Linked DNA regions of Homo sapiens. The protein of the gene in region 4 interacts with the protein of the main gene of each other region in a pairwise test. Each region holds a gene or a part of one and is shown on either strand. Other genes may lie near its edges.

Evidence for each region.
Region 1: the proteins of DPYSL5 (region 4) and LAMP2 interact in binary tests that used the Homo sapiens proteins (3 or more experiments, as listed by UniProt).
Region 2: the proteins of DPYSL5 (region 4) and GSN interact in binary tests that used the Homo sapiens proteins (3 or more experiments, as listed by UniProt).
Region 3: the proteins of DPYSL5 (region 4) and HIP1 interact in binary tests that used the Homo sapiens proteins (3 or more experiments, as listed by UniProt).

What each region holds. Positions count from the first base shown.
Region 1 is NC_000023.11:120,466,270-120,473,150, reverse strand, and holds the start of LAMP2 (lysosome-associated membrane glycoprotein 2 isoform A precursor), read left to right. Parts: upstream 1-3,854; 5' UTR 3,855-3,981; coding exon 3,982-4,045; intron 4,046-6,881. UniProt on the Homo sapiens protein: Lysosomal membrane glycoprotein which plays an important role in lysosome biogenesis, lysosomal pH regulation and autophagy.
Region 2 is NC_000009.12:121,327,140-121,333,348, forward strand, and holds the end of GSN (gelsolin), read left to right. Parts: intron 1-168; coding exon 169-343; intron 344-1,751; coding exon 1,752-1,876; intron 1,877-2,098; coding exon 2,099-2,176; intron 2,177-4,248; coding exon 4,249-4,309; intron 4,310-5,294; coding exon 5,295-5,464; 3' UTR 5,465-5,703; downstream 5,704-6,209. UniProt on the Homo sapiens protein: Calcium-regulated, actin-modulating protein that binds to the plus (or barbed) ends of actin monomers or filaments, preventing monomer exchange (end-blocking or capping).
Region 3 is NC_000007.14:75,546,931-75,553,958, forward strand, and holds part of HIP1 (huntingtin-interacting protein 1), read right to left. Parts: intron 6,660-7,028; coding exon 6,523-6,659; intron 2,072-6,522; coding exon 1,961-2,071; intron 884-1,960; coding exon 825-883; intron 103-824; coding exon 9-102; intron 1-8. UniProt on the Homo sapiens protein: Plays a role in clathrin-mediated endocytosis and trafficking. Involved in regulating AMPA receptor trafficking in the central nervous system in an NMDA-dependent manner. Regulates presynaptic nerve terminal activity.
Region 4 is NC_000002.12:26,928,121-26,935,148, forward strand, and holds part of DPYSL5 (dihydropyrimidinase-related protein 5), read left to right. Parts: intron 1-134; coding exon 135-203; intron 204-3,519; coding exon 3,520-3,564; intron 3,565-5,137; coding exon 5,138-5,213; intron 5,214-6,457; coding exon 6,458-6,614; intron 6,615-7,028. UniProt on the Homo sapiens protein: Involved in the negative regulation of dendrite outgrowth.

The DNA.
Region 1 (6,881 bases), on a different chromosome or scaffold from region 4:
TCTTTCTCACAGTGTTTTTTGGAGAAAACATTAAACATTTCTGAGTATGGAAGCTCAGTGCAAACAAAGACTTGAGAATTTTTAGCCTATTTATGCTGACAAAATACCCAGCATGTATCTACAACTTTCAAAACATTGTTGTGTCTCACGACGATGCCTGTCCCAGTCAAGGAGCCAGCATTTGTATTTGCCTGAGGAAAAGGTTGTGATGGGGGTGAGGGTGGATTTCGCTTGTAAGGCTGCTCATATTTCACTGTGTTTATTTTTTTAATTTGATGACACCTTCAAGAGATAAAGGGCGACAATTTATTACACCAGATATTTGACAAATTGGGACAGTATTTTATTTTATTTTAATTGTTAGAGACAGGGTCTCACTCATTTGCATAGGCTGGAGTGCAGTGGCGCCATCAAAGAGCACTGCAGCCTCAACCTCCTGGGCTCAAGCGACCCTCCCATCTCAGCCTCCCTGGTATCTGGGACTACAGGTGTGCACCACCATGGCTGGCTATCCTTATATATAAATATATACATATATTTTCAGAGACAGGGTCTTGCTCTGTCACCCAGGCTGGAGTGCAGTGGTGCAAACATGGCTCACTGCAGCCTCCACCTCCTGGACTTGAACAATCCTCTTGCCTCAGCCCCCAAGTAGCTGGGACTACAGGTGCACGCCACCACCCCCAGCTAATTTTTAATTTTTTGTAGAGATGGGGTTTCACCATGTTGGTCAGACTGGTCTCAAACTCCTGAGCTCAGGCAATCTGCCTGCTTTGGCTTCCCAAAGTGTTGGGATTACAGGTTTGAGCCACTGCACCTGGCCAATTTTAAATAAATGAGCATTTACTCACATAGAATCCTTGAATTATAAACCTGATGCCAACTTAGAGATCATCTGAGGCCCACCAATATTGTTTTGGGGAGTTTTGAGAAAAACACCATGCCCAGGCCTGACTTCAGATAAACTGAATCAGAATCTCAAGGGATGGGACCAAGGGGAATTTTCCACTTTTAAAGCTCCACAAGTGATTCCAACATGCAGCCAGGATCAAGAAACAGCTCTAGTCTCATTATTTCATTTTACCAATAAAGATATAGAAGTTCAAACAGATGAAGTGACCTGCCTAAGATCACACTGCCAGTAAGTGGTGTCTCACAACCAACTCCTCTGACTGCTAACCCAATGTTCTTTCCACTATGTTCTTTTTTTGTTTCTTCTTATAGAAAGAGCTTAGGGTTTTACTGAACATTAAAGTTATGCGATTTACAATTGAAAGAGAAGAGCTAGAGTCCAGGAAGTATTGGTGGGGCATCTTCAGAGGGCTCAACTCAGTTGTGGGTTCTCTGAAGACTACTATGCCCAGGACATAGCTCCTGCCAAGTCTCATTGATGGCAGTCAAAAGACATTTTGCTAAAGGCAATGACTAACACTGTATGCAGTGTTCATTAGTCTTGTGTTGGGTCACTTGTTCACAAATTAGTTTCACCTATGGTAGTAAACATTCATTGACAAATGTTCTCACTTTCAGGAATTAATTACATTAAAGCAAACAATAGTGGGGCAGATCGGTGCTTCTTAATATTTGAATTAGGGTAGGGGTTAGGGCAAGGAGTCACAGGTCCCATTGGAGAACTAGTGAAAACTACAAACTTCCCCACAAAAATACACATACATAAATGTTGCATGTAATTTCTGAGGATTCACCGACACCTCTCCCATCCTGTCTAAACTCATACATAAACTCCAGATTAAAATCTCCTGGACTAGATGATTTTGAAGCTCTCTTTCAGTGTTTTTCTCAAAGTGTGGTCCATGGACCACAGAATCAGAATCACTTGGGGTGTTTGTTAAAGAAGTGATTAATAAGACTGCCACAGACCTACTGTTTCAGAATCTCTGGGGAATGAGGTACAGGAATCTGTATGTTAAAAAAAAAAAACCCAAAACCAGATGGTTCTTTTGGAAACTAACACTTGAGAATCAGTGCTTTATTCCAACTCAAGATTTTTAAATGCTTTCATCTGTTGAATATTTTAGGTTTTGTCTGTTCATCTATCAAGTATAGCAAACAGTATGCTTAGTATGAACTCATTACAGAATATTTGTGTGTATGTACATAGGAAAAATATCTGGAAGTATAGATGTGGGTGTGTGTATATATGTGTGTAAATATATATAATAATGTTAATAGTAGGAATACAGATGATCTCTATTTTTCCGCTTTATCCTTCTGTTTTATTTCTCTCATTTTTTTCTTCCTGTGTTTAAAAAAGATGCTTCTTGTTTCTGAGCTCAATTCCCCCACCTGAGAACAGGGTGCTGTAACTAGGTGAATTTCAAGATCATGTCTTGTTCCGATGGTCCGTGACTCCATACTACCCCCTAGGTTCCCTCGTCCATCTCACAGCATGAACTGCATAGGTAACAACAGTGTTTGGAGAATAAGCATGTATTATTTTTGTATGTATTACGTTTGAGATGCCTAGCAACCGTTTTTGTGCCCGCAAAATTTTTCTCTTCTTTGTCAAGGAGCCAAAACGGAAATAGTCTACTATCTACGGCCCTCAAAAGTTCCTCCTCTCTCCTTAGCCTTAGAAAATACCGTCCGCCATAGGCATGGGCAAAGACCTCATGGCTAAAACACCAAAAGCAATCGCAACAAAAGTCAAAATTGACAAATGGGATCTAATTAAAAGAACTTCTGCACAGCAAAAGAAATTAGCATTAGCGTGAACAGGCAACCTGCAGAATGGGAGAAAATTTTTGCAATCTACCCATCTGACAAAGGTCTAATATCCAGAATCTACAAGGACCTTAAACAAATTTACAAGAAAAAAACAACCCCATCAAAAAGTGGGCAAAGGATATGACCAGACACTTCTCAAAAAAAGACATTTATGCAGCAACAAACATGAAAAAAAGCTCATTATCACTGATCATTAGAGAAAGGCAAATCAAAACCACAATGAGATACCATCTCACGCCAGTCAGAATGGTGATTATTAAAAAATCAGGAAACAATAGATGCTGGCGAGGCTGAGGAAAAATAGGAATGCTTTTACACTGTTGGTGGGAGTGTAAATTAGTTCAACTATTGTGGCAGACAGTGTGGCGATTCCTCAAAAATCTAGAACCAGAAATACCATTTGACGCATGCACACGTATGTTTATTGCAGCACTATTTACAATAGCAAAGACTTGGAACCAACCCAAATGCCCATCAATGATAGACTAGATAAAGAAAACGTGGCACATATATGCCATGGAATACTATGCAGCCATAAAAAAATGAGATCATGTCCTTTGCAGGGACATGGATGAAGCTGGAAGCCATCATCCTTAGCAAACTAACACAGGAACAGAAAACAAAACACTGCATGTTCTCACTCATAAGTGGGAGTTGAACAATGAGAACACATGGACACAGGGAGGGGAACAACACACACGGGGGCCTGTCAAGGGGTGGGGGCCAAGGGGAGGGAGAGCATTAGGAGAAATACCTAATGCATGTGGGGCTTAAAACCTAGATGACGGGTTGATAGGTGCAGTAAACCACCATGGCACATGTATACCTATGTAACAAAGCTGCACATTCTGCACATGTATCCCAGAACTTAAAGTAAAATTAAAAAAAAAAAAAAAAAAGAAAGAAAAAGAAAAAGAAAATGCCGTCCGCGCATATCTCTCAGGAGCATAGGAAGGGCTGTGAACCAAAAAGCCAGGGCGTGGTCGCCCCGCCCACCGGCCGCTACATCACCACCCCTCTCGCCGCTTTCAAGCGCGGAGATTGGCTGTAAGCAAGAAAGAGCCCCGCCCCTAGTCTTATGACTCGCACTGAAGCGCCGATTCCTGGCTTTTGCAAGGCTGTGGTCGGTGGTCATCAGTGCTCTTGACCCAGGTCCAGCGAGCCTTTTCCCTGGTGTTGCAGCTGTTGTTGTACCGCCGCCGTCGCCGCCGTCGCCGCCTGCTCTGCGGGGTCATGGTGTGCTTCCGCCTCTTCCCGGTTCCGGGCTCAGGGCTCGTTCTGGTCTGCCTAGTCCTGGGTGAGTTGTCGGGCCCTCCCGATTAGTCTGTCCGCCTGGGCCCGGGGCACCAGTTCAAAGCTACAACCTGAAAGACTGGTCCGAGGGGGAGGGGGTTGAGAGGCTCAGCAGCTAACACTGGGCGGCGGCGGTTGGCCCGGGGAGGCAAGCGGTGACCTAGAGAAGGCCTGACCGACGGATGGCGGGGAAGAAGGGCCCAGGAGAGTAAGAAGGGGCCGGTAACGGGGGGTGGACGCCGAGGGAGTAGGCTGGGAGGAGTGAAGCGTGGAGAGGGTCAGCGTGGAAAGAGTAACTTGGGGAAAACACTGAGGAGTGAGCGTAGGAGGGTGGTACATGCAGATTTTGGGCGCCAGAGACAATTAGGAGAGTCTTGGTTTGCTGAGATCAGGGAAGAGTTTTGAAGATGGTGGAAAAACTATGGGGTGAGATAGGAAATTAAGAGAGAAGACCATGCCTGCCTGGAGTAGCTTGGGAGAAGTGTGTGGGTGGGGGACAGATGGGACAGATAGGACAGTAGAGCCTGAGGGGCAGGGGCAGTGACAGGGTTGGGCATTTTGAAGGTTGGAATTTGAGACTGTGAAGAAAGGATGATTCAAGAGATTAGGAGTGATGCTGGGTTTGAGTTTGGTAGTCATAGTTTTAAGGGCGAAGGAACCTAAGGTAGCTGGGGCAATTTCCAGGAAAGAAAACTTGGACCCAACCTCTGGAGACTAAGGGGTTCAGGGGGAACTTTGATGGGGAGTGCACATCTGACTTGGAGGTATTGAGGATGTCGATTTTCTCCCAGTTTTGCTACTTCCTCCCAGCCAGACGCTGACAAAAAAATCCCCAGACGTTTCAGTTAGGAGGGCCTCCCAGATGTGAGGTTTTGGGGGTGGAGTATTTGAGTTTGGTAGACTACCTCTTTGCCTTCAGAGTTTCTTCTTTTCTTTCTTCCCCATCACACAGCTAGCCTATTACCTCATATTTTGGGGGTGCAGGGAGCAGGTAGACAAACTTGCTAAGGATTGGGTTGTTACCAGGGCCTAAGAATGGCTGGATGGGGCCGGGCGTGGTGGCTCATGCCTGTAATCCCAGCACTTTGGGAGGCCGAGGTGGGTGTATCACCTGAGGTCAGGAATTCAAGACCAGCCTGGCCAACATGGTGAAACCCCGTCTCTACTAAAAATACAAAAATTAGCCGGGCGTCGTGGCACATGCCTGTAATCCCAGCTGCTTGGGCGGCTGAGGCAGGAGAATCGCTTGAACCCAGAAGGCGGAGGTTGCAGTGAGCCAAGATTGCGCCATTGCACTCCAGCCTGGGCGACAAGAGTGAAACTCTGTCTCAAAAAATAAAAATAAATAAATCAATAAATAAATGGCTGGGTGAATGTTCGCTGATTGTGTTGTGCCCTAATAGGCAGTGGGTCGCTAACAACTTTAATGCCTAAAAGTGAACTTTGACTAAAGTGTCTCTTCCTGACTTTGATTCATGCTGTGCTTGTTGCTACCCACCTGCTCTTGCTATTTGTGACTTAATAAAATAACATAAAGAACAGACCCAGATGGGAGTGGGGAAGAAATAGACATATTAGGGGTCTGAGAAAGCAGTGAGAGGTATACATTTTGTAATTCACATTTCAGTAGAATGAAATCAACACCCTGGAATAGTGATTCTCAACCAGGGGACATTTGGCAACATCTGGAGACATTTTTGGTTGTAACAACTGGGGGATTGCTTTTAGCATCTAGTGGGTAGAGGCCAAGGATGCTGCTAAACATCCTAACTAAGCACAGGGCAGCCCCTGACAACAAAGAATCATCTCCCTGAAAATGTCAATGGTGCCAACATTGATAAATCCTGCTCGAAAACCATAGTATTGGAAGGGTTCTTGATTATCTAATTCAGTGACTCTCGAGGACCTTTTCATGCGTCTGTGAAATCAAAACTTCGGAATAAGGTTAAGAAGGTATTTGTCCTTTTCTGCTGGGCACAGTGGCTCACGCCTGTAATCCCAGCACTTTGGGAGGCTGAGGCGGGCGGATCACCTGAGATCAGGAGTTCAAGACCAGCCTGACCAACATGGTGAAACCCAGTCTCTACTAAAAATAGAAAAATTAGCCGGTGTCGTGGCACATGCCTGTAATCCCAGCTACTTGGGAGGCCGAGGCAGGAGAATCGCTTGAACCCAGGAGGCGGAGGTTGCGGTGAGCCAAGATTGCGCCACTGCATTCCAGCCTGGGCAACATGAGCGAAACTCTGTCTCAAAAAAAAAAAAAAAAAAAGAAGTTATTTGTCCTTTGTCCTTTTCACTCTCATCCTCTCACCAGTGTACAGCAGAGTTTTCCAGTGGCTACGTAACATGTGATGACCTCACCACTCTGATGTTCTTATATTTTATTCATTTCTCAGTTTTAATTTCTAATACTGTAAATACCAATACATATGACTCACATAAACCTCTGTGAAGTCCTCAGTGGATAAGAAAGTAAAGGGGTCCTGACACCAAAACTTTGGGAATCCCTGATGTAGTCCAACTGTTCACAGCGCGCAGGAAACTCTTCTGTAGCACTTCTGAAAGGCGGCCTTGAGGCAGGCTTTGCTTGAATACTTAATTGGAAGCCTTAACTGTACCTTGGAGCACTTACTGAGGGCCAACTGACCCTAAGAAAGGATTGTTTACAATGGAAAGTACCTTATCAGTGACTAGAACACATCTGACCAAGGCATCTGTTAATCAGTAGTTCCCTGCCAATTGAATCTGTGCACAAATACAACACTGTTATTGTTTTGGGAAAGTGAAAAAAATAATAGTTGTCCTACTTGTTGGCTTTCATGTCATTAAATTTTTTTTTG
Region 2 (6,209 bases), on a different chromosome or scaffold from region 4:
GTCAACCAAGGCCATCAGGGTCCAAAGTCTGTGCCCTCAGCTCTGATGGGCTGTGTTCCTCCAAGTCCCCACCTGAGAGCTAGTCCTGCTGCGGGGTCTCCTGGGCTGTGAGGAGGGGGCTGAGGGCTTTTTGTCTGGTTCCTGATTAACCAAGCTGTACCCTCCCAGGTATTGCCTAAGGCTGGTGCACTGAACTCCAACGATGCCTTTGTTCTGAAAACCCCCTCAGCCGCCTACCTGTGGGTGGGTACAGGAGCCAGCGAGGCAGAGAAGACGGGGGCCCAGGAGCTGCTCAGGGTGCTGCGGGCCCAACCTGTGCAGGTGGCAGAAGGCAGCGAGCCAGGTAGGAGCCGGGGTGGGGGGCCTGCTGCTGTCCGGATGCAGCTATTAAGTTTCCCCCTTCTTTCCTTCAGCTTGGGGGCTCTAAATCCTCCCCTCCATCCCACCTGAGGGCCTGTCCCCTAATGTATGTTAAATAAAAGCAGTTGCATTAAAATGAGGGCTGTGGCCAGAGAGAGGGAGGTCTCCAGGAGCTAAAGAAAGGAGAGCCTAGCCTGGGCGTGGTGGTTCATGCCTGTAATCCCAGCACTTTGGGAGGCTAAGGCGGGCGGATCACCTGAGGTCGGGAGTTCAAGACTAGCCTGACCAACATGGAGAAACCCCATCTCTACTAAAATACAAAATTAGCCGGGCATGGTGGCACATGCCTGTATAATCCCAGCTACTCGGGAGGCTGAGGCAGGAGAATCACTTCAACCCGAGAGTTGGAGGTTGCGGTGAGCTGAGATCACGCTATTGCACTCCAGCCTGGGCAACAGGAGTAAAACTCTGTCTCAAAAAGAAGAAAGAAAGAAAGAAAGGAGAGCCCAGTGTGGGAAGGAGCAGTTGGTCTGTGGAAGGAGGCGGTCCCTCGCTAGGAAGCCTTGAAAGGTGGTAGGCAGGGCTGATAGCGTCAGAGGAGCAGTGGTCTCCTTGCATCTCTAGACTCTCCATGGACAGAAATGCCACCAGCCTGCTCTGTTTCCAGAATGTGGGCCGGGCAGCTCTTCCTTCTGCCAGCCTGCAGTCTTTATACTGTTACTTTGAGTTCATTCCCACCTGCTTGATGCTTAACAGAAATGGTGAAGAGTGACTTGGTCTAAAGCAGCTCTGTCCAGCAGAACCTTCTATGCAGATGGACATGTTCTGTATCTGCCGAGTCCAATTTGACAGCCATTAGTCACATGTGGCTGTTGAGCACTTGAAATGCGACCAGTGGGAATTAGTGGGAATGAAGAACTGAACTTTTAGTCGAATTTAATTTTAATGAATTTAAATTTAAATGGCTGCACATGGACAGAGCAGGTATAGTGGAAAGAGTATAGGTGTTAGAATCAGACAAGATTTGTATCCTGGTCTTAACACTTACCATCTGTGTGACCTTGAGTGAGTTGCTTAACCTCTCCGAGCCACAACTGCCTCATTAGCTGAGTGGAGCTAATGGTCCTCATCCCGCAATGCTGTCGTCAGCCTCAAGCCAATAGTGGTCCTGGCTGTGTGACTACTGCCAAGTCTGCCCTCTCTGGGCCTCTATTTCGTCACCTTCCAATTCCCTCAGGCCTCTTCCCTCTGGATCTCCTGGGATTTTTAGGATGGAGGGAGGAGAGGGAGAGCAGTTGGTTGCGCTTGGGCAGGGCTGGTCCCAGGGTCCGATGAGATGGGAGAGAGGGGTGATGGCGTCCCTTGGCAACTGGCGTGGCCTCCCCTCACAGATGGCTTCTGGGAGGCCCTGGGCGGGAAGGCTGCCTACCGCACATCCCCACGGCTGAAGGACAAGAAGATGGATGCCCATCCTCCTCGCCTCTTTGCCTGCTCCAACAAGATTGGACGTTTTGTGGTGAGCCCCTGCGGAGGTCACACCTCTGCTTTCCCCTCGGGAGGCGAGTTCCACAGGACTGGCCGGCAGCAGGGGCAGGAGAAACAGTTCTGATGGTGTGGCACAGAGGAAGGGGCCCCCTGCCAGCTGCAGCCAGCTGTGCCACTCCCTCAGGGGGCAGATAAAGGAAGGCCACCCAGGGGAGGGAAGACATCTCACTGATGCTCTTTCGTTCCTTCCCAGATCGAAGAGGTTCCTGGTGAGCTCATGCAGGAAGACCTGGCAACGGATGACGTCATGCTTCTGGACACCTGGGACCAGGTGGGTGAAGGACAGGTGAAGGCTCTCTGTGCCAGAGGGAGTGGGAGAAACTAGACTTCCAGTTCTATGATCAGTTGCTAGAAGGACCTAAAGGGGGCAGTGCCAGGTGTTGCCAGAAAAGTCTCTAAGGGTACTGGAAGTCACTTCTTCTTTCTGAGCTTCCATTTCCTCATCTGTAAACTGGGAGTGGCGGTACCTCCCTTGCAGATACACTCACCTTGAAAGCTGCAAAACGCCCTATAAAGGCAAATCACATGACCTTCATCATTCTCTCCCAGACCTTGCAGGAGCGTGAACTCTTCCTTTAAATCTGTTGGCAGAGGAAGTTGAACTTAGCAGCATCTTGTTTGCAGGCATAAACTGTCCAGTGTCACCTAGAGGCTCTAGAGGGCTCCTGCTTCTGGTTTGAGGGCTCTGGGCTCTGTCTCCACTTCATCTCCTAGAGAAGGCCATTATGTAGGACTTGGCAGGGGAAGATGCCATTCACTTACTCAACCAATATTAATTGGGCACTGCTTTGTGCCAGGTGCTTTATGTTTGAGATGCTGGGATAGAGCAATGAATAAAGTAGGCATTTTCCTGCTCTCCCAGGGCTTACGTTCTCACAGGGGTGTCAGGTCAGTCACCTTTCCTATCAAGGTGGCTTCTCCCAGAGTCCTCAGAGTTACGGAGCAGCTGGCCACGAAGGCATAAGACTCTACACTACCCACAGGGATGCTCGGAATCCCCAGTTGGAAGATCGGGACCAAAAATGATTGCAGCTTGAGCCATTCAGCAGTTGTCATTGATTGATCCATTGGCTACTTAATCTGTTTGTTCATCTGTTAGGGATTCAGTCAGCCAACATTTATTCAGCACCATGGTCTTGCAGGCAAAATGCTGAGTGCTGAGAATCCTATGATGAGCAAAATAGAATGCCTGCCTTCGAGGGGCTTCCACTTTAGTTGGGAACACATTTATAAATAAGTAAGAGAGGGCCAGACATGTTGGCTCACACTTGTAAACCCAGCACTTTGAGAGGCTGAGGTGGGCAGATCACTTGAGGTCAGGAGTTCAAGACCAGCCTGGCCAACATGGTGAAACCCCATCTCTACTAAAAATACAAAACAATTAGCCAGGCTTGGTGGTGGGTGCTTATAATCCCACCTACTTGGGAGGTCGAGGCAGAAGAATCACTTGAACCCAGGAGGCGGAGGTTGCAGTGAGCTGAGATCATGCCACTGCACTCCAGCCTGGGTGACAGAGTGAGACTCCGTCTCAAAAAAAAGTGAGAAAAATGAAGTCTGACATTTTATTGTCTAATGCCATTTTATCAATGATAGGTGCTCTTTGAAGTAATATTTTAGATATGCATAAAAATAGATGATACATAAAAATCAGCTAAATAATGTGTAATAGAACTTGTAACAAGACTCAAAATGGTGATAGTGGTGGGTGAGTTATTTTTATTCCAAGCCTTAGGCCCATTTTGACAAAGATGCACACAGACCGGCACATAGTAGACTCTCGGTGCATATTTGTTGGATAAATAAATGGGTGAGAATATGTTTGGCCACTCATTTGTTGAACGAGTGAATGCTGTTCAAGAGATAACTCATGGACCTTTAGAGAAGAATCTCAAACTCAATGCCTGATGGTACCTGGTTGGCAATGTTAGCGAATGAAGCAGGCTGGGCTGGGGAGACGTGAAGGAGCAGTGGAGTCTGAGGCAAACTAGAACTGCTCATCTCAAAGGGGCAGCTCCTGCGCAGCTTGACTCAAGTGAGGTTTGAAGGCCCAGGCTGCTAGATCCTCCAATTTTTAAAGAGAAGTTGGAAATCTAGATTTTTATGTCATAACGGTTTAAAAAGACATTGTTGGCTAACACAAGGTGGTGGGTGAGCAAACAAAACATGTTTGTAGGTTGCCAGTTTTCAACCTCTGTTCCAAATCCTTCCAGTCTTAGTTCATGGGCTCTGTTAGAAAGGGGAGGGCTTTGTCTGGTCTGATACCTGGCCCCTCCCCAGTCTTCCTCCAGCCGTGAATTTGATCAGCACTCCTCATGTACCTTTCCTGTTGCATCTCACCTCCAGGTCTTTGTCTGGGTTGGAAAGGATTCTCAAGAAGAAGAAAAGACAGAAGCCTTGACTTCTGGTGAGGACCCGAGTGCCTGGGGGCGGGGGGAGGGGTCCGTTGCTTGTGGGGTGCTGGGAGTGGCTCCTGTACAGGTCTGGGAATGAGCATCTTTCCAGGGGACTGATGGACAAGATAGGGTGGGGACTTCCTCCTCTGTGGGCCAGCCCCTCATAAATCCTGCCTGGGATAGTGAAGAACACATCAGTTCCTTCAGAAACCCTGAGGCTTCTCAAAGAAGGCTCTCCTCTGTTCCAGGAGAAGGAAGGGACAGATGAGAAGTCACTTCAAGTTCCCAGAATACTCAGAAGCTGAACTTGTCAAGGTTTAGATGTGGCAAAGCAGGCCAGGCATGGTGACTCATGCATGTAATCCCAGCATTTTGGGAGGCCAAGGCAGGAGGATCACTTGAGCCCAGGAGTTTGAAAGCAGCCCGGGCAACATAGTGAAACCTCATCTCTAGAAAAAATACAAAAAAATTAGCCAGGCGTGTTGGTGTACACCCGTGGTCCCAGCTACTCAGGAGGTTGAGGTCAGAGGATTGCTTGAGCCCAGGAGTTCACGGCTGCTGTGAGCCATGATCGCACCACTATACTGTAGCCTGGGTGACAGAATGAGATGGTGTCTCAAAATGAAAAAAAAAAAGAAAAAGATGTTGCAAAGCAGATTCTTGGCAGCTGAATAGATCTGATTTGTGAGCTGGGAACCCAAAAGTTGGTTCCCATATCTTCCAGTAGGGGACTGCAAGGGAAAGTAATAAGCTTTATGAAGCAGGAGATTAAGCCGTAGCCCTGTTCCTTCCTGTGTTCCTGAGCAGGGTGGTGGAGAGCCCACGTGGGTATCATGCCTTTAAAGGAGGATGGTGCCCAGGGCAGGGGGTGGGCAGTAGGGACAGTAGGACCATAGACCCTCTTCTTTGTCAACTCCTGTCCTGAGTCACCCTCTCCCTGGTGTGGGAGGCACTAAGAATTCCTGGGGTTTCCTTTTCTTGCACGTGTGTCTGCAGCTAAGCGGTACATCGAGACGGACCCAGCCAATCGGGATCGGCGGACGCCCATCACCGTGGTGAAGCAAGGCTTTGAGCCTCCCTCCTTTGTGGGCTGGTTCCTTGGCTGGGATGATGATTACTGGTCTGTGGACCCCTTGGACAGGGCCATGGCTGAGCTGGCTGCCTGAGGAGGGGCAGGGCCCACCCATGTCACCGGTCAGTGCCTTTTGGAACTGTCCTTCCCTCAAAGAGGCCTTAGAGCGAGCAGAGCAGCTCTGCTATGAGTGTGTGTGTGTGTGTGTGTTGTTTCTTTTTTTTTTTTTTACAGTATCCAAAAATAGCCCTGCAAAAATTCAGAGTCCTTGCAAAATTGTCTAAAATGTCAGTGTTTGGGAAATTAAATCCAATAAAAACATTTTGAAGTGTGTACTCTAGTGTGGCTCGTTTCCTTGTGCCCATCTGACAGTGAGAGCCGGCGTCTTCTCTGCCTGTGTCCCTGGTAATTCTGAGAATGGCCAGAGAGGTGCCTAGCATTTGCCTGTAAACTAGTAGAAAGGCTACATCCACCCTGTGCGTGAATCCTGGTGCCCTGAGAGGCGATGCCACAGTGAGTTGAGAGGTGTGTAGATTGTCCTGGGGGATACCTATGCTAAAGGAAATAAGGAGGGGCCGGGTACGGTGGCTCACACATGTAATCCCGACACTTTGGGAGACCGAGGCAGGCAGATCACCTGAGATCAGGAGTTCGAGACCAGCCTGGCCAACATGGTGAAAGCCTGCCTCTACTAAAAATAAAAAATTAGCCAGGCGTGGTGGCACATGCCTGTAATCCCACCTACTCGGGAGGCTGAGACAGGAGAATCTCTTGAACCCAGGAGGCGGATGTTGCAGTGAGCTGAGATTGCACCATTGCACTCCAGCCTGGGTGACAGA
Region 3 (7,028 bases), on a different chromosome or scaffold from region 4:
ACGCTCACCCTGCCGCTCTCCACAATCTCTCTCTGGAGGTCCTTAGAGGCCACGATGAGCACCTGAATAGCTTGCATGAGGCTGGTACAGCAACCAAGGATCCTGCCAAACAAACAAGTCGAGGATACACTGAGATCAAGATCCAAGATCAATGAACACGACGGTTCTCTTCCCCACTCCTAGCCAAAGGCAAGCTTGGAATGGGAAAGGGAGGTAAGAAGGGTGCTGAGGTTGCTGGAACATTCTGCGGGGAGGCACCGAAGGAGAGGCTGGGGAGTGAGAGAGATCTAATTGTGGGTCTCCATCGTAAGGAATAGTGAAATTGTGATTCCTAGGACTTCTTTTCTTCTTTTTTGAGACAGAGTCTTGCTCTGTCGCCCAGGCTAGAGTGCAGAGGCACGATCTTGGCTCACTGCAACCTCCACCTCCCAGGTTCAAGTGATTCTCCTGCCTCAGCCTCCAAAGTAGCTGGGATTACATGCATGCACCACCACGCCTGGCTAATTTTTGTATTTTTAGTAAAGATGACTTTTCACCACATTGGGCAGGCTGGTCTCGAACTCCCGACCTCAGGTGATCCTCCCTCCTCAGCCTCCCAAAGTGCTGGGATTACAGGCGGGAGCTACCGCGCGGGTTTCTTTTCTATAGTGAAACAGCAATATTGCTGTCATCATTAATACTGTTATTGATGATTACATCAACTCAGCCCTTCCCCGTGGCTGCTACTGCTCTCCTCTAATTCCCTAATAAGTATGCAAAGTATAGACCAATGTCAGGAAGACAGATCCTGCTCCCCTAGGTCCCACCATGCCGCTCAGACCGACCTTTCATTCACCTCCAATTTGACTCCTGTGTCTCCTGCTCGGGATTTGCTGAGCATCTCCTGTGAAAAAGAAGCATGGTTTCTAAATGTGCCTTGAATATTAAGGATCCACTAATGTCTTACTATACTTTCAGTCCAACATCGTGTGGTAGCTGGGAAACCTGAATCTGGAAGTCCCCAAGTCCCTGCCCACATTCTTGAGAGAGTCAGAAAAGAATCCAGACTCTAACCTATTCAGGGGGAGTGCAGCTGCAGTGGGCTGGCTCTGTGATCCGTGTCATTTTGTTTTGTTTTGAGATGGAGTCTCACTCTGTCACCCAGGCTGGAGTGAGCGGTACGATCTCGGCTCACTGCAACCTCCGCCTCCTGGGTTCAAGTGATTCTTCTGCCTCAGCCTTCTGAGTGGCTGGGATTACAGGCACGCGCCACCACGCCCAGCTAATTTTTGTATGTTTAGTAGAGACCAGGTTTCACCATGTTGTCCAGGCTGGTCTCAAACTCCTGACCTCATGATCTGCCTGCCTCGGCCTCCCAAAGTGCTGGGAATACAGGCGTGAGCCACCACGCCTGGCCAGAACCCAGGATGTTCTGACACCAAAGTATCTGATTCTTGAGGAAACTAATCACCTTCTCTCATGAGGACCTTCTCTCATGAGGACCTTCTCATTTTCTATCACTCAGAAAAACTAGCGAGTTCAGATTTTGGTCTCTCTTTTTTTTTTTTATAATTTAAAAACATTTTTACAGACAGGGTCTCACTCTCTCACCCAGGCTAGAGTGCAGTGGTGCAATCATGGCTCACTGTAGCCTCCAATTCCTGGGCTCAAGTGATCCTCCTGCAGCCTCTGGAGTAGCTGGGACTATAAGCATGCACCACCATGCCCAGCTAATTATTTTATCTTTTGTAGAGATGGGGTCTTGCTATGATGTCCAGGCTGGTCTCAAACTCCTGGACTCAAGTGATCCTCCCAAGGTGCTGGGGTTACAGGCATGAGCCACTGTGCCTGGCAAATTCTGGTTTCTGTCTTAGGGGGTTGCCATGGCCTTAATGAACGACTGTGACATGTTTAATGAGCAGTGTTGCAGAAGGGCAGCTGCAAAGGCATCGTTTCAGGAGATCCTGCAGGAACCTCCTACCTCTATTCTGGCCGTGGCAGTTTCAATAGCAGCTGAAGTGGCCGCCATCTCCTTGTCCACCAGGTCCCCCAGCTCCTCCTGCTTGATGTCCAGTCCCCTGGGCAGGAGCTCCTGTGAACACATCACAAAGGCTGAACTGACCTTGGGGCCTCCTGTCTCTTCTCCTCTGCCATCTGTAACCCTTACAAGATGGCAAGGCAGGAGGCCACCCAGCAAACACCTTCTGCAAGCCACAGGGGTTGTGGGGGGGTCTTTTGCAGACCCCATCTTGTCCTCTCTGTGACACAAACTCTGGAACCTCATGCTCCTCCTCACTCAGGATCCACCTCCTTCCAGAATGCCATCGCTGCCTCCCCCTGCAAGGCCATTCCGCCACCACTAAGACCCCAGTCCCTTAGTTGTGCAGTGTCAATTGTACTAGCTACACAGGAGGTATTTTTTTACAATTTTTCTTTTTCTTTTGCTTTCTTTCTTTTCTTTTCTTTTTTTTTTTTTTTTGAGACAGAGTCTCAATCTGTTGCCCAGGCTGGAGTACAGTGGCACAATCTCGGCTCACTGCAGCCTCCGCCTCCCGGGCTCAAGGGATTATCCTGCCTCAGCCTCCCAAGTAGCTGGGATTGCAGGTTTGCACCACCATGCCCAGCTAATTTTTATATTTTTAGTAGAGATGGGTTTCACTATTTTGCCCAGGCTGGTCTCAAACTCCTGACCTCAGGTAATCCTCCTGCCTCAGCCTCCCAAAGTGCTGGGATTACAGGTGTAAGCCACCACACCTGGCCCTAATTTTTTATTTTTTTGAGACACAGTCTTGCCCTGTCACCAGAGATGGAGTGCAGTGGCATGATCATAGCTCACTGCAGCCTCGACCTTCCATGCTCAAGCAATTCTCCCACCTCTACCACCAGAGTATCTGGGAGTACAGAGGTGCACCACCAAGCCCGGATAATTGTTTTTTTTTTTTTTTTAATAGAGATGGGGTCTCACTATGTTGCCCAGGCTGGTCTTGAATTCCTGGGCTCAAGTGATCCTCCTGTCTTGGCTTCCCAATGTGCTGGGATTGAATTACTATACCTGGCCTACAACTTTTTCAAATACAGATGATATCTTCCACTTTGACCCTGACTTAACTTTGCTTCCACAGTGATCATATGAGGCGGGTATTATTCCTACTGTGCAGATAGGAAGCCAGGGATCAGAGGTAGAACGTCTTGACCACAGTTATGGTAACAAATGGCAGGGCAGGGATTTGAACTAAGGTCTGACAAACAGCAAAGCCTATGATTTTTAAAACATGATGTGTTATACATACTAAGGTATAAAATATATATGAATGGTTCAAAGGATAAGAATAAAGACGCATGTTATCCACCACCCAACTTAAAACTTAAGGAATGCTGTAAGAAACATCAATACCTTTGGAATCCTATTTGAACTTGTATGTGCCCTGATTCTATCTCCCTTACTCCCTGCCTTCTACCCCAAGAGACACAGAATTCAAGAGCGTGGTTGTTGTGTCTTATTTTATTTTTATTTTTTAAAGACAAAACATAAAAGCCTGTTGCCCAGGCTAGAGTGCAGTGGTGCGATCATAGCTCACTGCAGCCTCCCACTCCTGGGCTCAAGTGATCCTCCCTGCCTCAGCCTCCTGAGTAGCTGGGACAACGGGCACACACCACTAGGCTCTGCTAACTTTTAAACTTTTTTGTAGAGTCAGAGTCTTGCTTTGTAGCCCAGGCTGTATCAAACTCCTGGCCTCAAGTGATCCTCCCGCTTCGGCCTCCCAAAGTGCTGGGATTTTCAGACATGTGCCACTATGCCTGGCCTGTCTTATTATTATTATTTTTTAATTCCACATAGATGCATCCCTATTAAGTTTGAATGTTTGAGTCTTTATATAAAAGGAATCCTACTGTATATATTTTTCCATGACTTGATTTTTCACTCAACATTCTATGTGTGAGATTCATCCTAATACCTAGTAATTCTGATTCTATGTATATACTCTAGAGAAACTGACATGTGTGCATATATGATCATAGGGGCAAATTAATAACAACCCAAACTGGAAATAACCCAAGTGTCCATCACCAAGAGAACAGACGGATGAATTAAGCGATATTCACACAATAGATAATGAGAGAGCAGTGAAAATGAATTTATCTTCTTGGATTAATCTCACAGAATGTGGAGTGAAAAAGCCAGTTGTAGAAGAATATATACAGTAGGACTCCATTTACCTGTAGTCTATATCATGTGAAACTAACTCTATTATTTAGGGAGGCAAAGATGTAGATGATAATTTTTTTTTTTTTTTTTTTTTTTTTTGAGGCAGTGTCTCACTCTGTCGCCCAGGCTGGAGTGCAGTGGTGCAATCTCGGCTCACTGCAGCCTCCGCCTCCCAGGCTCAAAGGATTATCCTGCCTCAGCCTCTCAAGTAGCTGGGATTACAGGTATGTGCTGGGATTACAAAATTAGCCACCACAACTGGCTAATTTTGTATTTTTAATAGAGATGGAGTTTCACTATATTGGCCAGGCTGGTCTCAAACTCCTGGCCTCAAGTGATCCACCCACCTCAGCCTCCCAAAGTGCTGGGATTACAGGCGTGAGCCACCACACCTGGCCCTGATCTTTTTATTTTTTCTTTTTAGAGACAGGGTCTTACTCTCTCACCCAGGCTGGAGTACAGTGGTTCACTGCAGGTGAACCACTCTGCAGAGTACACTCTGCAATTCACTGCAGAGTACACGGTTCACTGCAGTCTTGAGCTCCCAGGCTTAGGTGATCCTCCTGCCTCAGCCTCCTGAGTAGCTGGGACCAAAAGTGCTCACCATCACACCCGGCCAATTTTTAAATTTGTTGTAGAGACAGGGCGCCACTAAGTTGCCCAGGCTGGTCTCAAATTCCTGGCCTCAATTGATCCACCCACCTTGGCTGGATGTGGTCTTTTTATTATCTTCTTCTGGAACTCCAATTAGACAGTCTATCCTCATGGCTTTTATTTTTTATTTATTTTTTGAGTGGAGTTTCGCTCCTGTTGCCCAGGTTGGAGTGCAAAGGCACGATCTTAGCTCACTGCAACCTCAGCCTCCCAGGTTCAAGTGATTCTCCTGCCTCAGCCTCCTAAGTAGCTGGGATTACAGGCGCCTACCATCACGCCTGGCTAATTTTTTGTACTTTTAGTAGAGATGGGGTTTTGCCATGTTGGCCAGGCTGGTCTAGAACTCCTGACCTCAGGTGATCCACCTGCCTCGGCCTCCCAAAATGTTGGGATTACAGGCGTGAGCCACCGTGCCTGGCCCTATCCTTGTATCTTAACCAATATATTCCAATTCATAACACTGGGGAAAAAATGAAAAAAAACTGTACTGCATAGAAATGGTTTTCTTATTTTTCTTTTCCATAGAGTCCATGTCTTCTCTGTCCCTATATATACTTAACCCAATTTCTGGTATACAGGACATATTTATTTATAGCAGAGGCAGGGTCTCACTCTGTTGCCTAGGCTGGAGTGCAGTGGCACAATCATAGCTCACTGTGGCCTCCAAATCCTGGGCTCAAGCGATCCTCCTGCCTCAGCCTCCCGAGTAGCTGGGACTACAGGTGCGTGACATCACACCTGTCTAATTAAAAAAAAAATTTTATTTTGTAGAGACAGGGTCTCACTATGTTGCCTAGGCTGATATTGAACTCCTGGCCTCAAGTGATCCTCCTGCCTCGGCCTCCCAAAGTGCAGGGATTACAGGTGTGAGCCACCATGCTCGGCACTACATCTTTAGTAAATGAATGAACACAGTGTTATTTCCATTTTGGGTATTACCTGCCCACCTAGATAAAAATCCTCAGAGACAGGGGAGCTGCCTATACTTCTTTGATATTGCCTAGTGTAATGATGACAACATAGTAGATTCTCAGCTAACAGCCAGTGAATTAAATATAGCTGGAAAGTCCTTCAGGAGGTTTTTCCTTTTTAAATTTTTTTTTTTTTAATTTTTAAAGAGACAGGGTCTCATTTTGTTGCCTAGGCCTGTCTCAAACTTCTGGGATCAAGTGATCCTTTTTTTTTTCGAGATAGATCTCACTCTTATGCCCAGGCTGGAGTGCAATGGCATGATCTCGGTGCACTGCAACCTCCACCTCCTGGGTTCAAGCAATTCTCTTGACTCCACCTCCCAGTACCTGGGATTATAGGCATGCACCACTATGCTGGGTTGATTTTTGTATTTTTAGTAGAGACAGGGTTTCACCCTGTTGGCCAGGCTGGTCTCTAGCTCTTGACCTCAAGTGATCTGCCCACCTCAGCCTCCCAAAGTGCTGGGATTACAGGCGTGAGCCATCCCGTCTAGCCTCAAGTGATCCTCCTGACTCGGCCTCCCAAAGTGCTGGGATTACACGCATAAATCACTGCACCCGGCCAGATTTTCCAATTTTAACAATCTCTTTCTAGAATCAAGTTCTAAGTGCAGAAAGAACTAGCTCAGAACATCACCGATTCCCTGGCCATTCACCAGCACGCACACCCAGAAGAATAACAATGCTCCTCAATGATACTACTCCAAGTACCTCGCCGATGGCCTTGATCTTGCTCAGGCAGTTCCTCATGGCTGTGCTGTCGGCATTCTCAAGGCTTCCCTCTTCCTCCAGGGAGGCCAGGTAGGCGAGGGTTTCCCTGCCATACTGCTTACAGGCCTCGGTCAGTGCTGGAGATACAAGGCAATAGACACTTTTTTTTTGAGATGGAGTCTCGCTCTTGTTGCCCAGGCTGGAGTGCAGTGGCGCCATCTCGGCTCACTGCAAACTCCGCCTCCTGAGTTCAAGCGATTCTCCTGCCTCGGCCTCCCAAGTAGCTGGGATTACGGGTGCGCCACCATGCCCGGCTAATTTTTGTATTTTTAGTAGAGACGGGGTTTCGCCATGTTGGCCAGGCTGGTCTCGAACTCCTGACCTCAGGTGATCTGCCCACCTCGTCCTCCCAAAGTGTTACGGCGATTACAGGCGTGAACCATTGCATCTGGCCCATCGTTTTTGTATCTTTAGTAGAGATGGGGTTTTGCCATGTTGGCCAGGCT
Region 4 (7,028 bases):
TGCAGAAGTGAGAAAAGAAGCAAGCCTATTGAAACAGGCGGTGTCTAGCATATTTCACTGTCCCTTGGGTTCAGTATTTTCTTACACGGTGTCTCTGTGATTCTCTCCATTTTCTTTCTCTTGCTGTTATCCAGGGTGCTAAGGAGGCACTGGATTTGGGGATCACAGGCCCAGAAGGAATCGAGATCAGCCGTCCAGAGGAGGTGAGAAACACTTCCTGTAGCCTTTGTCAGCGTCTCTCATGTAGATTGACAGAATCTTCCAGGATGGAGGAGACATCAAACATACAAATTAGCCAGGCACAAGGGCTCATGTCTGTAATCCCAACATTTGGGAGGCTGAGGTGGGTGGATGGCTTGAACCCAGGAATTTAAGACCAGCCTGGGCAACATGGTGAAACTCCGTCTCTACTAAAAATACAAAAAAAATTAGCTGGGCATAGTGGTGCATGCCTGTAGTCCCAGCTAACTACTTGGGAGGCTGAGGCAGGAGGATCACCTGAGCCCAGGAGGTTGAGGCTGCAGTGAGCCGTGATGATGCCACTGCAATCCAGCCAAGGTGATAGAGTATATATATATATATATACACACACACACATACATATATATACGCACACACACGCACACACATACGTGTGTGCGTGTGTGTGTGTGTGTATAGCATCATTTTCTCCACGGGTGAAATTTCCATTTGATTCTGATTTCAAGGATCTAGGGGAGACAATGTCAGCACACCTGGGGTTGCTGTGCCCAAAACTGAATCAAGAGACAAAAGACAGACTGAAAAGGCCTTCAGGTGTTAGAAGAAATTTCAAACTATAAACTCTGCCTTTGGGGGATGACATTCCTTTGAGCATCTGAGGAATACTTTGGACCAGGGGTCACCAACCCCCAGGTCATGAACCGGTACAGGACCGCAGAGCAGGAGGTGAGCAGCGGGCCAGCTGAGAGCCCCCTGGGCTCCACCTCCTGTCTGATCAGTGGTGGCCTTAGATTCTCATAGAAGTGTGAAGCCTATTGTGAACTGCACATGCGAGGGATCTAGGTTGCACGCTCCTTATGAGAATCTAACTAATGCCTGATGATCTGAGGTGGAACAGTTTCTTTCTTTATTTTATTTTATTTATTTTGAGATGGAGTCTCGCTCTTGTTGCCCAGGCTGTAGTGCAATGGCGCAATCTCGGCTCACTGCAACCTCTGCATCCCGGGTTCAAGCCATTCTCCTGCCTCAGCCTCCCAAGTAGTTGGAATTACAGGCATGCACCGCCACACCCAGCTAATTTTGTATGTTTAGTAGAGACGGGGTTTCACCATGCTGGTCAGGCTGGTTTCGAACTCCTGACCTCAAGTGATCCACCCACCTCAGCCTCCCAAAGTGCTGGGATTACAGGCGTGAGCCACCGTGCCCAGTCCTGAGGTGGAACAGTTTCATCCTGAAACCATCCCTCCCCATTTCCCACCACCACTGCCCCATCCCTGTCCTGGTCTGTGGAAAAATCGTGTTCCACGAAACCGGTCCCTGGTGCCAAAATGGTTGGGGACTGCCGCTTTGGACCCTTTCCACCAAAAACAGGAGACACATACAAGTCTATGCTCCTCCCCCTCATTACCTGCTGAGATGGTCATTCAAAGCTGTTTTCCGCCTGCCCTCTGGCTTTATCCCTGTGCACAGTTTTGCATGGCATTGACACAAATCCCCTACAGTCCCCCTGCTAAAGAATTCTGCTCTAGAGGGACCACATTAGACGAATAACGCATTCCTGCCCTATTACCCTGTTTACACATTCTCTACTGTTTTAGAAGAGGGGGAGAAACTTCTCATTTCTTCAAAGCCTAAAAATGCAGATGGGTGGTTGGTTATCCATGAGGGATTGAGGGGGAGGCCTCGAGGGACAAGGAGCAGGACACAGGATGTGGTGGCACTGCCATTACCCAGAAACCAAGTTGGCCCACGAGTGGGTCCGCTGAGGAGTGCCCCCTCACTGCCCTGATCAGTGCCTGTGTTTCAGAGCCCTTGAATATAGGTCCTGTTTGGCACTTCTGAATTGGTAGAGAAACACACACCAGATTCGACTGAAACACAGAGGGTATGCCTGTGAGAACAGGAGAGAGCAAGGGGTGGACACACACACTAGACTTTCTTTGTTACTTAATACAAGGGAAAGAGCAAGGCTTTGGCTGTGGTCGTAATACCAATAATTATCACCGCCATTATCTATTGGTTAAAGGTGGGAGGGCCCTGGGTCTATGCCAGGGGAGATGTTGCTCCCCAGGGGAAATTTGACAATATCTAGAGATATTTTTGCTTGTCCCAACCTGGGGGGCAGGGCGGATGCTACAGGCATCTAGCGAGCAGAAGCCAGTGATACTGCTAAACATCCCACAATGCGCAGACACCCCCACCATAAAGAATTACGCAACTCGGCTGGGTGCAGTGGCTCACACCTGTAATCCCAGCACTGGGAGGCTGCGGCAGGAGGATTGCTTGAGCCCAGGAGTTTATGACCAGCCTGGGCAATAAAGGGAGACCCCCTCCATCTCTGCAAAAACTTTTTAAAAATTAGCCAAGCATGGGCCGGGCATGGTGGCTCACACCTGTAATCCCAGCACTTTGGGAGGCCAAGGCAGGCAGATCACGAGGTCAGGAGATCGAGACCATCCTGGCTAACATGGTGAAATCCTGTCTCTACTAAAAATACAAAAAATTAGTCGGGCATGGTGGTGGGCGCCTGTAGTCCCAGCTACGCGGGAGGCTGGGGCAGGAGAATGGTGTGAACCCAGGAGGCGGAGCTTGCAGTGAGCCAAGATTGCGCCACTGCACTCCAGCCTGGGCGACAGAGCAAGACTCCGTCTGGGAAAAAAAAAAAAAATTAGCCAAGCATGGTAGCGCATGCCTGTAGTCCCAGCTGCTCAGGAGTCTGAGGTGGGAGGATCGCTTGAGCCCTAGAGGTGGAGGCTGCAGTGGGCCATGATCATGCCACTGCACTCCAGCCTGGGAGACAGAGTGAGACCCTATCTAAAAAAAAAAAAAAAATATATATATATATATATGTGTGTGTGTGTGTGTGTGTGTGTGTGTGTGTGTATATATATATATATATATATATATATGAATTATACAACTCAAATGCCAATAGTACCATGCGCAGAAACCCTAATCTAGGCTAATTTCCGGAGTCAAATCAGCCACTATTTCTCCTTTGCTGCAGTTCTGAGGTGGCTATGGAGAGAATACACCAGAAAACAAGGAGAGACATGACCTTGGGTTTTTATTTACTTTTGTTTCCTTGCCTTTTAATTAAGCCCCAAGTAGCATCCAGCAAGGGCGTGCCTGGTATTGTAAGACCTAGAATTCTCCCTCACTGTGAGCCAAGGTAGTTGGAGGTTAGTGCCTCTGCCCGGGCTTTGCCCCGAGCCAACCCCTATGGGTGCAGTTGCTCCATGAAGGGGAGAGTATGGTGTGGGTATCCTTGGAGGAGATGGTGAAGTTTGGTTTCCTCCTGTCCTTTGTTTCTAACAGCTGGAAGCTGAAGCCACTCATCGTGTTATCACCATTGCAAACAGGGTAAGTCCCCCGATGTCCACTGTGGGATTAGAAACCAACCTTGGCCAGGCACGGTGCTGATGTCTGTAATCCCAGCACTTTGGGAGGCCGAGGTGCGTGGATCACCTGAGGTTAAGAGTTTGAGACCAGCCTGGCCAACATGGTGAAACCCCATTGCTACTAAAAATACAAAAATTAGCTGGGCGTGGTGGCGTGCACCTGTAATCCCAGCTACTCAGGAGGCTGAGGCAGGAGAATTGCTTGAACCCAGGAGGCGGAGGTTGCAGTGAGCCAAGATCGTGCCAACTGCAATCTGTCCTGGGTGACTGAGCGAGACTCTGTCAAAAAAAAAAAAAAAAAAAGAAAGAAAAGAAAAGAAAGAAAGGAAAGAAAGAAAGAAAGAAAGAAAGAAAGAAAGAAAAGAAAAAAGAAAGAGAAAGAAAGAAAAGAAAAAAGAAAGAGAAAGAAAGAAAGAGAAAGAAAGAAAGAAAGAAAGAAAGAAAGAAAGAAAGAAAGAAAGAAAGAAAGAAAGAAAGAAAGAAAGAAAAGAAAGAAAGAAAGAAAGAAAGAAAACCAACCTCTACGATGCAGCCCCATTCTGCTCTGGGTGCCAGCACCATGTCTTGCCCACAGGAACCCAGAGCTGTTTGCTGACTGAGCGCTGTCATGCCCACCATCCTTGCATTCACCCTTCTCACCACCAGCTTTCCATTCCACCCCGCCGAGCCTGCTGAAGCTCAGTTCATTGCTCACGTGTAAACTCAGTCCAGCTCCTAAACTCTACATCCTCCTAATGTGATAAGCAAAGAGAACAGAATAACATCTGGGGAAACAGAATTTCCCAATTGCACTTTAGAGCTCTGGCCGCTGGACAAGGACATTGTTTCACTGTCATGACAATAGTTATTTATCAATTACTTCCTGGTGGAACTTAACCCAGAATAAGGAAAGACCCAAACAACAAAAAGTCAGTTCCTTGCCTTTTAGCTCAAGCATATGCTCAGAGGAGTTAAGCCATGGACCGTGGTTGCACAGCTTAGTAGAGAAAAAGCTAACCAGTATTACAGTCCAGGTGTCCGTTCGCAAGGTCAGCCTTCTCTTGCCTAGACTCTGAACCCTAACCCCCTTGTATTTTGTTCATCTCCAGGGTGCATTCTGTCTACTGATAAGCAGCCTTCAGACAGCAGGCATCGTAATTTTAGATACAGAATACACGACTAACTCTAGGTCATCACGTTTATGAACAGGAAATTAAAATAGGAAAAAGAGTTCCCCCCTTTTAAATTACAGTCATGGTTGTCAGATGGGAGAAAATGCGAGGTTCAGACTTGACGGTCTTGAACTTCACAGGCTGGGCTTCCCGGTGGGCTCTGGTGCTGGAGGCTGTTCTCTGCCTCCCCGTATCATGCAGTTCCTGCAACCTTGCCCTGACTGCCAGCCCTGCATTCTCCGCTTAAGGACTGTCACCTTGAGGGTGGGGTTGAGTGACGCAGGGGGAGGCGCTGGTGCCAGGGCTGACTTTGCCAGGGTTATTCTGATGCTTGTGAAGTTTATGGGTCAACCCTCCCTACTTCCCACTGTTTCTTGTGTTTAGACTCACTGTCCAATCTACCTGGTCAACGTGTCCAGTATCTCGGCTGGTGACGTTATCGCAGCTGCTAAGATGCAAGGTGAGTCCATAGACTTGGCTGGACAGAGCAGGTCAAGTGGAGGGACTGGAGATGGATGGGGCCCATTAGCCGTGCTCACTCCTGGCCCCGGCTCCTGAAACCAGGACCTGAGCCAGCCCTTCCCTTTCATCTGCCACCGTCTTCCTCAGAGCTGCCCTGTGCTATGCTGGCTTTAGTCTGCTAGAACATGAGCTTTTTCTTCTGCAAATTTGTATGCATAACAGCTTTACGGAAGTGTCTGTCACTTCTCCTGGGTCTGGTAACATTTTCCAAGTTTTAAACCCACTCATTAATTAGTGTCTTTTTGGCCTCATAGATTTTACTAGCAGTTGCCTTGGCAACTAACATAAAATGCTGGACCAGTTTCAGTGGGCATTTCAGGGGCTGTTTGGGAAGTCCCTAAAGAAAGAACAGTGTGTGGGCCCAGCTTCCTTTTAGCCTCCTGGAACCCTGTGTATGAGTCCGAGGGGCACTTGTATGGCTTCTGTTGCGGATCGCCTGGCAGTACCTAAAGGCTTGCAGATGCTTGGAGTCCAGCCCCGCCCCAGGTGCTGGTGAGGGCCTGGCAGCAGGAGAAACAAAGTCACAGTCACAAGCCTGGGGAGACAGATCAGAAGCAAGGGCATCTCAGCCTTCAACTATAATCGATCAGAAGCAAGGGCATCCTGGCCTTCAACTCTATCGCCCTCTAGATCCCGCCACCTGCCTCTCCCCTCACTGAAGCCCCTTGGAGGGTCTCGCCTAGACTGTCGTCCCAGCCTGGTGACTGCTCCCACCTCCTGTCTCCCTGTCCTCCAGCCCTGCTACGGCCCTCCCTGTCCTACCACAACCGTTCTCTTGAAGCTGCTCACAGCAACTGCCTGTCCAGAAAACAGTCTAGACTGCTCTTTAGCGTGGCATTCGTGGCCCTGCATGCCTGTTCACCCACCGTCAAGCTCCATCTGCCAACAGCACCCTGCACACACCAGTGCTCTGGTCATCTGGCCAAACCAGACTCCTCAAAGTGCCGCTTGGTCCTGCTGGGCCTCGGTGCCCATGTCCCTCTGTCCTCCTTGCCTAAGTCAGCAGAATAGGGAGGCTCTCTGGGCTTGAACCCAGCTGTGCTCTTAAAAGCCCTGTGAGCTTGGGCAGGTCCCTTCCTGTCTCTGACCTCAGCTCCTTCACCTGTAAAATGAGAGGCACACACCAGCGATCGCTCAGGTTCGGTGGCTTCCTGGTTATGGTTCTGACCTTTCTTCTTCCAGGGAAGGTTGTGCTGGCGGAGACCACCACTGCACATGCCACGCTGACAGGCTTACACTACTACCACCAGGACTGGTCCCACGCGGCTGCCTATGTCACGGTGCCTCCCCTGAGACTGGACACCAACACCTCAACCTACCTCATGAGCCTGCTGGCCAAGTAAGGCGTTTCAGCAGCACATTGCAGGGATGTGTACATCTTTAGGAAGACGTCATAGAGGGCCCAGGAAACAAATCTGAGCTAGGTTTGATTTCATTGTGCCCATAGGATCATTGTGCTTTTCTTACCTTCTCTGAGCCCATCAGATAATTGCCATCCTATTGGGATTTTATGACCGCTTGATATGGAGTGAGATCTTCTGAAGTATAAGAGTGAAGAGCACATATAGAACTGTGAACCGTGGTTATTCGGAATTTCAAAGGACATTGATCTCTTACTCTAAAGCCCAGTGGGGAGCTGCAGAACGTGGCCTGTGACTTATCCTAGAATGTAGGGGTCCTTTCTGTTTCTTTTGTTCACCTCTCCCTCTTCTTGTTGGCTCCCGTGTGCCCCTTGTCTGTACATCCCTCCTTC